Linked DNA regions of Homo sapiens: region 2 is linked to region 1. Evidence: fine-mapped expression QTL. A gene starts in region 1. The other region holds a variant in brackets. All regions are shown on one strand. Distances are between the middles of the regions. Region 1 holds the start of HTR6 (5-hydroxytryptamine receptor 6). Region 2 overlaps TMCO4 (transmembrane and coiled-coil domains 4).

Evidence for each region.
Region 2: its variant is fine-mapped to the expression of HTR6 in whole blood (INTERVAL, PIP 0.99).

The regions. Positions count from the first base shown.
Region 1 is chr1:19,663,354-19,665,853 of GRCh38, reverse strand. HTR6 (5-hydroxytryptamine receptor 6) reads right to left here and starts at 979. Exons shown (of 3, transcript NM_000871.3): 1 at 1-979. The coding sequence starts at 100. RefSeq lists enhancers at 1-184, 185-1,157 and a silencer at 936-1,165.
Region 2 is chr1:19,686,665-19,689,579 of GRCh38, reverse strand. All of the region lies in intron 15 of TMCO4 (transmembrane and coiled-coil domains 4), which reads left to right. Among named protein-coding and RNA genes, the nearest start is that of HTR6, 23 kb to the right of the region's middle. RefSeq lists an enhancer at 18-532. The variant A/G (reference allele first, on the strand shown) is at 1,246.

The DNA of each region.
Region 1 (2,500 bases):
ACAGCGCGGCCGCCACCCAGCCGCTGCCCCCCGGGGCCGACGGCGGCCCTGCCCCCCAGGCCGGGGTGCTATTGGCGGTTGGGCCCGGCTCTGGGACCATGAGGACCGAGGGTGGACGGCAAGGGAGTGATAGGGTGGCGGGAAAGCAGATGAGGGCCCCGGCGAAGCGCAGGCTGGACGGGGACCGTCCGTGAGAACAGACCGCGACTCACCACGCCCCCCGGGGGAGGTGAGTGGGGGGACATGGGCGGGGGCGCTGGGTCGCGCTAGGTCAGGGGGCAGCGACTACAGGAGGACACAGTGTGGCTATTTGGGCGCCCTCGGGGATGGGGCAGGAACTCCTGGAGCAAACGGGTTGGAAGTTTGGGGAGGGGCACCCGATGAGCCGAGGCCCCTGAAGGAAGCGGCGGGAAGTCAAGCAGAGGTCGGATGGGCTCCCTGGGGTGGGAGCAGAGCCCCCTGGAGGGGGCGGGCGGCAAGATAGGGGAGGGGCGTCCGGCCGGGTCAGAGTGCGGGGAAGTGGGAACGCGGGGAGGTGGGTGAGGGGGGTGAATGGGCGCTCTCGGGCCGGAGCAGGCTCCCCGCGGCCGGTGGGCGTGTGGGGTACCAGGGCGGGGGCCTAGGGGCCGGAGCAAAGCCGCCCCTGGGAAAGGCAGGTCTCAGCTGGCGCGGAGGCACCGGGATCCGGCGCACACGGCCTGTGCGGCGCGGGGGTTCGCCGGGGCCGCCAGGCCCCGCGGGAAGAGGAGGGCAGCGGCCGCGCGGCGCCCCCTCCCCACCCGGCAGCAGGGTCGCCTCCGTCTCCCGCCCGCACTGGTACCTGGGGCGCTCTGGCTGCTCCGCCGCCTGCGACTGCGGCAAGCGCCGCGGGGCTGCGAGAGGAAGAGGCGGCCGCGGGCCGGGCGGGCGGCGGGACCGGGTCTCCCGAGCCCGGGAGGCGCCGCGAGGGGCCCGCACGCGCGGAGGAGAGGCCGGGTGCAGCCTGGAGCGCGCGGTCCCCGCGCCGCGGAGCGTGCGCCCCGCCTCGCGGTGGGCGGGGAGAGCCGAGCCCTGGCCCTGCAGGAGGGCGGGGTCCCGGCACCCCGGGCCTGTGGGCCGAAGATCAGAGCGCCCCAGCTGCGAGGGGTCACCTCCCGGGCTGTGGCAGCCCCCACACCCTCAGATGCCCCTCCCAACCCACACGTGGCGGCGGCGCAGGCGGAACTGGGAGCAGGGGGCTGTGACCTGCCCTTATCCAGGGGCTGCTCTCTAATGGGTGCCTGCCCACTCACAACGGGGTCACCGGGCTTTCAGGGGAGCCAGGAGTTGGGAAATATTGGACAAATCGCCTGACACCCCTCTGGGCCTCAGTTGCCATATCTGTAAAATGGGTTAGTAATTCTGGGCATTCTTCACCGTTAGTTTGAGCAAGAAGCTAACCTTCCCCAGGGCCTTTCCCGCAGAAACCATCCCGATCCCCAAAGGGGCCAGGTACTAAGGATGAAGTCCCTGAGCTGTTGGCGCTCCTAGTCTAACAGAGCGTGAACAGATTTGAGAATCCCCAGGCCAGGTGTGTTAAGAGTCGCTGCAGGCAGAGGCGTGGGGTGTGGTTTCCCCTGGGTGTGACCTCCCTCTGTACGTCTCCCCTCTGGCTGAGAAGAGTCTCTGCCTAACACTGCTGTGCAGGTTAATACTGTTATTCATTCATTCATTGAACAGATACTTCAATGCATCTTTTAAGGCGCATCCACTAGATGTCAGGCACTGTTCTGACCCATCAGGACACTACAGTGGCCAAAACAAAGATCCGCACCTCCATGGAGCTTACATTCTAGTGGAAGAAACAGACAATAAACAATAAGCATAATCAACAGAGAAAGTGGGCCCAGCGAGGTGGCTCACGCCTGTAATCCCAGCACTTTGGGAGGCGGAGGTGGGCAGATCACCTGAGGTCAGGAGTTCGAGACCAGCCTGACCAACATGGTAAAACCCCGTCTCTATCAAAAATACAAAAATTAGCTGGGCGTGGTGGCGGGAGCCTGTAATCCCAGCTATTCGGGAGGCTGAGGCAGGAGAATTGCTTGAACCTGGGAGGCAGAGGTTCCAGTGAGCCAAGATTGTGCCACTGCACACTCCAGCCTGGGTGACAGAGCAAGACTCTGTCAAAAAAAAAAAAAAAAAAAAAAAAAAAAAGGAAAGAAAGAAAGAGAGAAAGGAAAGAAAGAGAAAGAAAGAAGAGAAAGAGAAAAAGAAAATGTAGTATAAAGAGAACGGGGTGGGATCATTTTTTCTCCACAGAAACAGAAAAATAATACTTTCCAAATCGAAGGCTCCTGCGCTGTCCCCAGGGGCTTTGTTGTACGGTTCCTACTCCTCCAGTTATTTATTCCGACCCCTACAATAATGCTGAGAGGTAGACGTTAAACTGGGGTTCAGAGAGGCCAAGGGCCTTGCCCCAGATCACCAGCAGCAAGTGGTGAAGTGGACCTGAAACCCAGATCTGCTCGATGCCCATGGCAAA
Region 2 (2,915 bases), 24 kb before region 1:
TGGTTTACTGGCTGTGTGACCTTGGGCCAGTTACTTAACCTCTCTGTGTCTCAGTGTCCTCATCTAGGAAATGGTGGAAACGCCTAACTTCCAGGGCAGCGCATGTAAGATGCTTGGTGCATAGTAGGCCCTCCTTTAATCCTAGTCCCTCCCGGCCTGCCCCTGCCACCACCCCCAGTTTGTTTGCCTCTGGGACCAGCAGTTTTGGAGACTCCGCTCCCTCCTCAGGCTGTCTTCGTGGCAGCTTCCCAGCTCCTGCCTAATAATAGCTCTTTATCACATTAGGAGTACATCACAAAAAACAGTGCTTTCCTCTTCTGGGTAATTAGAGGTAATTAGCACTGCCTTTGTGCTGGCCTCCTGTTTTCCTTGAAAATGCTTTGCTGGAGAAGTTGCTGGCAAGGGAGGTTTCATTACTGCTGTTGGGGAAATGCTGGCCACCCTCTGCTCCCAACAGAGACCCACAGGACCTGTCTTCTCCCTGCTGGGCCAACCACGCAGCAGGGCCCTTTGTGATCATCCCACTGGGCTGGCCCTGTTGCAGGCAGGGCGCATCTCTGGGGTGAATGAAGCTGCCCTCCTGCCCCTCAGTCTCTCCTCACAGGGACAAGGTTACAGTGGGTGGGGGATTTGCCACCCCAGGGACCAACTCATGAGGCTTCTGGGGCACAGAGATCCAACCCACGGCAAGATTCTCCATGTCCCAGCAGAAATGCCAGGTGGCCTAGAACTTAGCAAAAGGCTTGGCACAAAGTAGATACTTGATAATAACCGCAGTAGCCAACAACTCACATGTTTTACGGGGTAAGTCATTTGATCCTCATAGAGGTCCTGCATAGTGGTAGTAACCCGTTGTACAGGTGTGAAAACTGAGGCTGCAGGCGGTGCCACGGCATGTGAGTGGTAGAGCCGGATGAACCTGGGCTGTTAACCACTGCTTCAGTACTGCCTGCATTCACACATCTCTGTAGCTTCTGGTAGTGGCCTCTAACCCTGTGCCAATAAGCCTGTTACATGTATTATCAAAGCCACACAGCCAGCCCACGTGGTATAGGTCTCTTTATTAGCCTCATTTTATACATGAGGAAATTGAGGTCCAAGAAGTGAAAGAACCCAAAGGGGCCTGATGGGCTTGGAAGGAGTCACTGGGGCAGATGGAGGTGGGTGATGGCAGCCTCTGTTTGGGTAAGTTGGGGTGTCTTTTGAGGCAGGAAACAGGAAGGGCTGGGCCCCATTTGTACCTGC[A/G]GGGATCTGGTTCCCACGGAAACCCCACGATGTGCGGGGCTGGCTGTGGGGCACAGAGGTGAGTGAGAAGTGGTCTCTGCTCCCCTGCGCTCAGTTTATCAGGGAACGCAACCTCATGAGCATGTGACGATGACAGGTTATGAGTGCCATCACAGGGTGTCCACAGAGGCCCCTGCCAACACGGGAAGCCACGGAAGGCTTCTGCACGCCAGTCACATCCGGCGTGTATCCAGGCAGCTGGCAGATTCAATCAAGACAGCCTGGGAGATGGTCAGGGGCTGAATCTTCACGCAGTATCGGCTACACCAGAACTTTCTGGTGCTGAGAAGAGGCTCTTTCCCGACCTGCCTCACCCCTCTTCTCTCATCTCTCCAGCTAACTGTAAAACCAGAGCTCTGCCCAGCAACTGCTCCCCTGGGTCTTTGCAGAGGGGTGGCTCAGGGACTAGGGTTGCCTGAGACCCAGACCAACTTGTAGTCGAGGAGGGCCAGAGCTGTGTGTTCTAGGACAGCTCTCAGTGGAATTTCCATCTGGTATCAGCTGCAGCCAGTGGGTACCAACACCTCCCTTCCTTCCTGGCCTGTTTCTACCCAGCACTGGCACCAGCCATCTACAACATTAAAAAGGTATAGGGAGGCAGTTCTTGTTTGTCCTTAGAGAGGCAGTTATCACTTGTCCCTGTGGGTCTGAAGTTTCTGCTGGCTGGAATTCAGATGTGATGGCTGGAGCTTGAGCAGCCATCTTGGGCTCCCAAATGGATCAGCCCAGCTAACTCCCTACTCTCCATCCCCCACTCGTAGGAAACTAAGGTAAGGGAACTCATATTTACAGAGTACCTCCTGGGGTGCCAGGCACTGTGCTTCATGGTTTGTATTATTTCTTCCCAGCAACTCCTTTAGGTAGGTATCACTAACTCAAATTGCATGATGTCTCTTTAAAAGTGTTTGGGGCAGGGCATCGTGGCTCATGCCTATAGTCTCAGCAATTTAGGACGCTGAAGCAGGAGGATCTCTTGAGCCCAGGAGTTTGAGACCAGCCTGGAGAACATAAGAAGTCCCCATCTCTACATTTAAAATTTAAAAGGCCAGGTGCAGTGGCTCACGCCTGTAATCCCAAGCACTTTGGGAGGCCAAGGAAGGCGGATCACCTGAGGTTGGGAGTCCGAGACCAGCCCGGCCAACATGGTGAAATACTGTCTCTACTAAAAATACAAAAATTAGCCAGGTGTGGTGGTGCACATCTGTAATCCCAGCTACTTGGGAGGCTGAGGCACGAAAATAGCTTGCACCTGGAAGGCAGAGGTTGCAGTAATCCAAGATCATGCCATTGCACTCCAGCCTGGGCAACAGAGCAAGACTCCGTCTCAAAAAAAAAAAAAATTAAGAAAAACAAAAAGTGTTTTGGATCATATAGGAACATAATATCAAAAGCTAGCATTCTCTGAGTTCCTATGAAGTGCCAGGCCCTTGAACTCCTTATAGCAATCATTCAAGGTCATGACTCTCATTTTACAGATGGGGAAGCTGTGGTTCAGGAAATTGTGAGGACTGGCCCAGTTACTGGTAAGAGACAGAGCCAAGGCTGGTACCCCAGCTTTTCAGAGAGTCCAAACTTAGGTTCCTTCTCAGGCCCTGCAGCCACTAAATATGTGTCCTGCTGCAGAGGGGCAC